Linked DNA regions of Homo sapiens: all the other regions are reported to be linked to region 2. Evidence: microRNA targets listed by miRTarBase, many of them from high-throughput screens and not tested one by one. Region 2 holds a microRNA gene; each other region holds the end of a gene's coding sequence.

Region 1 (3,000 bases), not on the chromosome of region 2:
GATCACGTTTGTAAGGATCTCTAAGATACTCAAATGGTAGACACAGGGTACCTGTGCTTGGTAAAACTACAACTTCCCTACTTTCTGCTTAAGACATGGAGGTCAGAAGCAACCCACAATGAACTGTGAACCAGAGATCAAACTAAATATTCCTTTTAATAGAAATGTGAATCTTGCCATGTTGGGCAGACTGGTCTCCAACTCCTGGCTTCAAGAGATCCTCCCACCCGCCCTAGCCTCCCAAAGTGCTAGGAATTACAAGTGTGAGCCACCACATCCAGCCAGTGTCTTTGAAAACAATCAAATATAATCCTTAATGTTTCTTTACATTGTCATCAAGTATTAGTAACAGTGACTTCTAGTGAACACCTTGATCCTTAAACCACAGGTCTAAGTTCAGTTTTGTGATTCCTTTCATTTTTACACTCAACCCTGAATATGGACAAGACCGGTTAGTGTGACCTGTTATTTTAGGAATTACAACTTTAAAAATTCCTAATAGCCACAATCTAAATGTGCAATTCAAAGCTTTTAACAATTTCCATGTTCTAAAGTTTCTAAGAGTCTTGAGGTTATGCTAGGGCTCCTGGTTAAAGTAACTGCCAACTGGGACTGTATGTCACCTAAGTCAGGATAACTCCCTGGTGAAGTTACTTTTATTTCAGGTTCTGTATTATTTCTCTTAGCCATATTATACCCGTAACTGTCCTTTTTACAGAAACCCTTCCAACTTAAGAGCCTGCAAGGAAGTCATATACTGCCCAAAAATGCCCACATAAGTTGTCCATTTATAAAAAGCAATGTAATTGACATATTGCATGGCTTCCGTAACTTCTTAGCTATCTTGGCTTGTTCCTAACAGGAACAGGTTGTAGGCTATGTGAGAATACTAAAGACAAAATGCCCAATGCCAGAGCTCTCAGTAAATAAACAGGCTGTCTGAAAAGTGTCTTTCTTGAACATGCTTAACTTTAAGGCTGAACCTTCCTGACACCAATTCTCCCAAGATTTGTGTAAAAGGTGGAAATAAATAATTTGTTTAGGAACTGTATCTTAATGTATCCATTTAGCTTGAACTCTTAATGCAATGACTTATCTTTCATATTTAAGACAGTCAATACCGCATAATCCAAAACTATCTTAAGAGCATATTTAAGGAAACTAAGCCACAAGACTGTTGCATTATGATTTAATCTAATTGCACAAAAATTTGAAATTACAACACCTGCCATTTTCTAAGAGGAAGGTTATGCATGCCTCCATATTCAATTCTGCACTGTTACATTTGAACCATATTGTGAACTTTTACATCATGATGGATCAGCTTAGAATTCCCATGCAACACCTCAAATTATAAAATGGAAGCAATTTTTAGACCTGTGGAAAGTTTTCATGCTAAAGATAAAAGCCATTTGTTAATGGGCAACTTACTTTGTGTTTAAGAACCAGGTTGCTGCTATACTTTAAAATGTTGGTCACTAAATATTATGGACCCTGAACTGGCTTCTATGCCTAAAAAAAAAAAAAATGGGTTAACTATCACTTAGGTGACATCTATATTTCCTTCACTTCAGAAGACTAATCCATAGTGCCTCTCAGCTGTTTCTTATAAAATAAGAATCGTGTAACCAACTGCTTCCCATGGGATAAGAACAATGGTAACAGTGGGTTCAACTGACTATACACAATTATGCTAATATTTTATTAATTCAAAAGCACTTTACAAGAAAATATAAGTATGGCTTCCAATAGGAATGTTATACCTGGACTTGGTACCAAGCTCACAGATTTGAGTTTGCAAGGAAAAACAGGCTTTCAAGTTAAAGAACAATTTGTAACCAAAACTTTAATCCCAAGGATTCTCACAAAACATATTACAAATGACAGCATGAAAAAAAAATCTTGCACAGTAACTCAAAGTTCGGCTCTACAATGTACCCTTAAACTGGCAGGACATTTTTGAAATCACAAATTTGCACATAAAGAATGTCACGAACAGCCATGTATCCATATACAGCAATCAAATAAGGAACTTATGACCTAAAGCAAAGGTAAACTTTCTTGAAACTTAACATTCTATACCAACTAGGCAACCTCTGCCCAGGATGAGAGTTGGATTTTTCAAAAACCTCTAATTTAATAGTGCAGCATTTCGTTTTCCCTGATGGCCTGTGTTTCACAGCAGTTTTTAAAGACTGCTTGTTCAACTATAGCTGCAGCCTATATCCCAGCTATGGAAAAAAAAGTAAATCTTAGTTCAATTTTTGCCAGTTGTTTCTGTATTTAAATTTAAAAAAAAACACACTTCCGCTGGGCAGGTTTAGAGGTTTATTATCAGTCTGTGCATAACTAAAAGTTCAAAGCAAATTCAATTTTGCTTAAGGGAACATTGTAAAGTAACAATTCTTGGTATTACATGCCTCGTATGATCCATTTCAAACCATAGAGAATTACACCTTTGTGTCACTGTTTCAAGAGACAAACAGATTTGAACAGCTAAAACATCTTAAAAATGCACCAAGCTTATGAAGTCTCAAACAAAACTTGAATTTTCTGTACATACTCCTGTCAAATGAAGTAATTTCCTGTACACCACTTCTCTTGCAAACTGTCTTCTATTTCCTTTCATTTGACCTAGATCGACTAAAAAAAAAAAAAAAAAAAGAAAACAAAACATTACATCTGTAACTTGGTGACACTTTAGTGACATATCGAAATAGAACTTTAAGGTAAAAAATTTATGGCTTAGAAGACAGGCCTTAGCATACTATGTATGCAAAGTCTTAAATACAAGTTATCAAAGATCTTACCTACGAGACCTAGAGAAGGATCGGGACGGCTTGTGATTTCTCTCCCGAGACAGCGATCTCTCTCTTCTCCTATCTCTAGAAAGGGACCTAAACAAGCAAAAAAACATTAGGACCAATGAGGTATGATAAAATTATACATAAATATTTTCTTGATCTGGCATGGTGACTCATGCCAATAATTCCAATATTT
Region 2 (3,000 bases):
CTGGGAGGACCCACTCAAGACACCTTGCCCTGAGCCTGAGGGCAGCTAAACGGGCCTTGTCCCCAGAGAGAACCTGAAACACACAGGGACAGCCACCCCACACTGCCAGGTCCCTAAAGCCACAGGCTCCTTCCAGCTCCCAGCACAATAGACAGGAAGTCCTACGGAGGGAGCACACATCACCAAGGCCGGACTCCGACCTTCCTGCCTCCTGCCAGCAGGTCTAGCCACCCTGACCGGGACCCAGCTTTCTCCCCCAGGCTGGGGCAGAGGGAGAAGAGACTGCAGTTCCAGAAGCCACAACACCCCGCCAGCAAAACCTCAGTCCTGCCAGACAGCGTTTAATTTCTGTGTGAAACAAAATCAAAACAAATTCTAGCACTGAGAAACCGGGGCTGAGATCAACTCTCCACCCTCCCCGTGGTCTGCAAATCAACCCAGCCCGAGCCCAGCTTCCAGCCCAAGCACGTCTGCTGTGTCCCTCAGGGCTGCAACGCCACCAGGGCCCAGCTGCACCCAGGAGGTGGGGCACATGCCGCAAGGATGGCACGGGTGGCCTGTGCAGATGCCCAGGTGCCTGCCAGGTGAAGCATCCTCGGGCCTGAGAGAAACACCCCCCTCCACCCTGCTGAAAGCACCGTGTCCCATGGCAGCCCCTGGAATAAGCCCTGCCCTGTCTGTGTCTGCAGCATCCATGGGGTCCCCCAAACCAGACCACAGAGGCCAGCCCAGCTCCCCCAGGCTACTTGGGCTGACTGCCCTTTTCTGGGGCAGGGTCCTGGACCCCAGAAGGGGCATGGCTGGTCTGTGGGCTGCAAGACAGGCAACCAAGGCTGCACGCAGGACCCCCCGGGGGAAAGGTGAAGAGCAGAAGCTTCCAGGAGGCCTCTGTGCTCAGTGACCACAGCCCCCCATGGCCTTCCCAGACAGCCGCAGACCCACACAACTGGTCAGCAGGACAGGGAGAGCCACGCAACCTTCCAGTGGCCACCAGTGTCACCTCCCACACTGTCATCCCTTCTGGAGCTCACTCTCCTGTAGGTGTCACAGAGGGAGCATCCCAAAGTCCACCTGGCTCCCCTCCCCACCCCACAGTGACTCCAGGTCTGCAGCCTCTGTCCCCATCTGGCCAGGAGGGACGCCGGCCCTGACGTTCTCCAGCTCTGGGAGGCTCTGGCAGCAGCTCCTCCTGGGCCAGACCTCCAGCCCACTTCCCCTGGCTGCACTGACCTCAGGTATCGCTAAAAAAAACAAATGCAGCCTGCGGCTTGCCTTTTTCCATCGTCCCATCCGGCCACTGGTCCTGAGGTGCTGCAACTGCCAGCTGGACAGCTGGGCTTCCTCTGGCGGGCAGCGGCGCCCAGCCAGCCAGGACCATGCCGGGAGGGCAACAGGCTCCTGGGAGGGCCCAGGCTGCAGGTCACGGGGCCGGGGCGGCCCAGTGCCACCCAGGTCAGCAGGCACAGCAAGACCATCCCCAGCCACCTGCCACCCTGCCCGGCCTGGACCACGGATGTGCTTGAATATGACCCCTGAAGGAAAACCAGGGTCACGTCCCCGCCGGGGCTGCACTCTGCATGGCTGCTCTGGTGGGGCCATCAACACCTGGCCTATCGTCCACACACGGGAAGGTGCGGCAGCCTGGCAGCCAGGTCTGCACTGCACTACGTCTGGCCACAAGTGTAGACACAGCCCTGCCAGAGTCAGAGTCCTGTAGGACCCGGGGCTGGGCTGCCAGGTGAATGAGTGACACAGATCCACCTGGCAGGGAGAGCCTCAGGCTTGAGGGAGTCTTGGGATAGGAGGGCACACAGAATGCAGCTTGGAGAAGACCCCACAGGGACCCTTCTGGCCAATCCCAGAATTGAGCGACCAGGGAGAGAAGGATGCATCTGAGGAGAACACAAGGGGACCCTCCTGGCTGATCCCAGAGTTGAGCGACCAGGGAGAATAGAATGCATCTGAAGAGACCCCACGGGAACCCTCCTGGCTGACCCCAGAGTTGAGCAACCAGGGAGAGAAGGATGCATCTGAGGAGACTCCATGGGGACCCTCCTGGCAAACCCCAGAGTTGAGCATGCAGGGAGAGAAGGAGGCATCTGGGCAGTCACTGGGCTTCCTGCAAGAAGCAGCAGCTGGGGCCGACCTCAAGGGACAGGCGAGGCCCTGGGAGCACAGGGGAGATGGCACCACTGTGCCCCAAGGGCCTCACCTGACCCTAGGGGTCAGCCCCATCAGAGGTCAACTTCCAGCCAGAAGGCATGGGGTCTGGGGAACCCCCACTCGTGGCTGGCCTTCTGGGTTCTGGGGGCCTGGCTCAGTCCCCAGTCCCACAGACACTGCTGCGGGAGCCACCCTGGTCCCAGACAACTGCACCGGTCCTGACCCCGCCGCCCAGCACAATGCACAAAGGGAGCCCGTGCCGCAGCTGGGATCAGGTGGCGCGACCGAGGCCTGTCAACAGGTGTCGCTTTCCCGCAGCCCCCACCCTCCCACAGGCATCACCTCCTCCCTGCCCCAGGGTCCAGAGCCTCCAGGAGGTATCCGTGCCTGTGTGCTCTTTCCTAGGGGAAGAGTCACCCACACGCTTCTTTGATGGCCAAACCCCAGAGCAGGGCACCCCCAGCCCGGGCCACCCCAGCAGCCGGCGGAAGGTCCCAGGCCAGGGCAGGCACTGGGGCCCTCTGCAGCCTGCAGCAGGGCGGGAGCAAGATGAGGCCAGCTGTCTCCCCAACCAGACGTCCGCCGGCTGTGGACAGGACATCTGCTCCCTCAGCTGTGGCAGGCCAGGCACTGCTGCTCCGTCCTTACCACACACCCTCCACACCCTCCAGGGAGCCAGGACCCCCAAGCAGGTGGGGCAGGGAGAGGCTGGGGGTTCCAAGGCCCCTGGGTGCAGAGCAGGAAGGAGGAAGGCCACCAGCGCCTGCAGGGGCCATCAGGCTGACACTCCAGACCCTCCCACTTACGGCCCCACTGTCAGGGAAGCCAAGCACCTGG
Region 3 (3,000 bases), not on the chromosome of region 2:
TGGTAAAACCCCATCTCTACTAAAAATACCGAAAATTAGCCGGGCATAGTGGCAGATGCCTGCAATCCCAGCTACTCCAGAGGCTGAGGCAGGAGAATCGCTTGAACCTGGGAGGCAGAGGTTGCAGTGAGCCGAGATCGTGCCATTGCACTCAAGCCTGGGTGACAAAAGCAAAACTTCGTCTCAAAAAAGAAAAGAAAAGAAAAAAGTTCATGTATTTCATATTCTTTTTTTTACTCAGTCATTAAAATGTAATATGTATTTTACACGTGCAACACATCTTAATTCAGCCTAGCCACAATTCCTGTGCTCATTAGCCATATGTGGCTAGTAGCTACCGTATTGAATAGCACAGGCTTAGAGGTTGCAATGAGCCAAGGTCATACCATTGCACTCGAGCCTGGATGACAAAAGTGAAACTCCGTCTAAAAAAGAAAACAAAACAAAGTTCATAATGTTTCATATTCTTTTTTTACTCAATCACTAAAATGTAATATGTATTTTACACTTACAACACATCTTAATTCAGCCTATCCACAATTCCTGTGCTCATTAGCCATATGTAGCTAGCAGCTACTGTATTGAATAGCACAGGCTTAGAGAAGGGTTTCTCACTCTTGGCACTATTGACATTTTGTACCTGATAATTCTTTTTTTTGTTTGTTTTTCTTTCTTTCTTTCTTTCTTTTTTTTTTTTTTGTTTTGAGACGGAGTCTCGCTCTGTCACCCAGGCTGGAGTGCAGTGGCGTGATCTTGGCTTACTGCAATCTCCGCCTCCCGGGTTCAAGTGATTCTCCTGCCTCAGCCTCCCAAGTAGCTGGGACTATAGGCACCTGCCACCACGCCTGGCTAACTTTTGTATTTTTAGTAGAGACAGGGTTTCACCATAGTGGCCAGGCGGTTCTCGAACTCCTGACAGTGCGATCTGCCTGCCTCGGCCTCCCAAAATGCTGGGATTACAGGCGTGAGCCACCATGCCCGGCCAGATCTGATAATTCTTTGTTGCTGGCTCCTGTGCACTGTAGGGTGATTAGCTGCATCCCTGATCTCCACCGTCTAGATGATAGTAGCAATTCTCCCCCAGTTGTTGCAACTAAACATGTCTGCAGACATTGACAAATGTCTCAGTGGGAGTGGGGCAAAATTGTCTCCAGTTGAGAGCCAAAGGTCTAGAAAAATTGGGGGAAAAAAAAACATGTGTGAAATGAGTCTTAGGATGATCTGAGAGGGAATTTTCATTTTAGAACTGAATACTGAACCATGACAGTAATACTTACAATAATTAAAAGTCTATCCAGTTCCCATGTTCTAAATTCACAAAAAAGAGAAAGAATAGAGGAAGAGGAGGGGTGACAGAAGGAGAGAGAAATGAGAAGAAGGAGAAGACAGAAAAGGAGAAGCCTCTTTTTATATACCTTTGTGCTTATTTTGGGCCCCTATCCACAGAAAAAAATATTGACCCAGCATTGAGCCCACTTTGGTGGCTGGCATCAGTATGTAATTATTTCAAAAACCCTGAGCATCTTGACTTTGAAAATAAGCCAGTGCTTGGGTTGCAACATGCCTCAGACAATGCCTGTGGGTTCAGGTTGTTGGGGACACCCAGTGTTCTCAATCCTAGAACTGCTTACTTCAAATAACAGCATTTAATATCAGAAGCAATAAGCAATAGATGCCAACCTCTGGGTGCACTGATCTCTTCCAAAGTCTCTCTTATCAACCAGGACCGCAGTAACTGGAAGCCTCAGTTAACTACAATGTTTCTGAAGTCCTTAACTTTATATATGTATATATATATAAAGTCTATATAAATATATATAACTTTATATATAAAGAACTTTGAAAACATATATATATAAGCTTTATACATATATTAAGGACTTTGAAAACATATATGAACTATATATATTAAGGACTTTGAAAACATTAAATATATGAGTGCATGTGTGTGTGTGTATATATATACGTATATATATATACGTATATGTATGTATATATATATACGTATATATATACAAAAAATCAAAATTATACCAGATTTATTCAAGGAAAGAAAGAAAAAAAGTGGGGAAGGGCTGAAGGAAGGAACTAAATCAAGAACATATCTTGGAATACCTAACATTTGTTATAATCTTATCCACCTGAATTTATATGTGTCTATACAATATTCAGAATGTTGACTTTTAGGTACAAGAAGATCCCGAATCATCAAAAAACAGCCTATTGTTTTCACTCTACTTCACAGTTCTTTTAAGTTTCTTAACAACAAGAGCTAAAAGCTAAATGGTTTCTACTTGCCCCTTGGTTAATGAGAACATTAAACTAACCAGGAGTTTCCACTCCTCAAGTGTTCTAGCTCATGGGGGATTTACTTCGACTGAGCTCATTTAAAGATACTAGGAGTCTAAGCTGTTGAGCTTCTACATTAGGTACTCTAGGTACAGCAGACAACAATCTGTGTCATTCCAAGTATCTTCCCAGGAACACTTAGGACTATTGGTATAGGAGGAATCGTTCGAGTGGCTCTGGCAGATGTAGCTTGTGGATGGCTTGATGACATGCTCGACCGAGACACTTCCGGACACACAGGCGGCAGAGCTGGGAAAGAGCAGGTGGGCCTGAGAGAGAAATAAAAATGGTGTTAACTTCATAGTGGTGGGAGGTGGGGTGGAAGGGGGAAATCAGAGAACTGGAAGAGGCGGAAATTTTCTAAAAGCAGAAGAGAAGCTGGATCTGTATAGGAACTATAGAATGAGGTAGCGGACACTAAATACAGACAGCAGATCCTGATTTGCCCCTCTGGAAGGGATGCATTTCTTTAAGTTAATCTTCCAATGGTACTTGGATTACCAATGTTGAAGAATGAAGCTAACCAGAGGCAAGTTAGGAATGAGGTGTGGGGTCTAAAGGGAATGCATCTCATTCATGTATTGAATGTGCCAATGAAAGTGATACACGGGGCCAGGCACGGTGGCTCACGCCTGTAATCCCAGCACTTTG

Evidence for each region. Region 2 holds the annotated microRNA hsa-miR-5008-3p (CCUGUGCUCCCAGGGCCUCGC, at 2,159-2,179, opposite strand). A microRNA usually pairs through its seed, bases 2 to 8, with sites in the 3' UTR of a target mRNA and lowers its output. Matches are read on the target gene's strand: a 7mer-m8 pairs with bases 2 to 8, a 7mer-A1 pairs with bases 2 to 7 and ends in A, and an 8mer does both.
Region 1: miRTarBase lists SRSF3 as a target of hsa-miR-5008-3p. Seed matches in the 3' UTR shown: 7mer-A1 at 2,339-2,345 and 7mer-m8 at 52-58.
Region 3: the mRNA of ASB11 is a reported target of hsa-miR-5008-3p. The part of its 3' UTR that is shown has no 7-base or 8-base seed match.

What each region holds. Positions count from the first base shown.
Region 1 is chr6:36,601,605-36,604,604 of GRCh38, reverse strand. It overlaps SRSF3 (serine and arginine rich splicing factor 3), which reads right to left. Exons shown (of 6, transcript NM_003017.5): 5 at 2,811-2,897; 6 at 1-2,643. The coding sequence ends at 2,616. Among named protein-coding and RNA genes, the nearest start is that of SRSF3, 8.7 kb to the right of the region's middle.
Region 2 is chr1:227,939,452-227,942,451 of GRCh38, forward strand. MIR5008 (microRNA 5008) reads right to left here and starts at 2,232; the gene lies at 2,139-2,232. The region is part of intron 1 of WNT9A (Wnt family member 9A); the gene reads right to left. RefSeq lists an enhancer at 2,679-3,000.
Region 3 is chrX:15,281,012-15,284,011 of GRCh38, forward strand. It overlaps ASB11 (ankyrin repeat and SOCS box containing 11), which reads right to left. Exons shown (of 7, transcript NM_080873.3): 7 at 686-2,618. The coding sequence ends at 2,494. Among named protein-coding and RNA genes, the nearest start is that of ASB9, 12 kb to the left of the region's middle.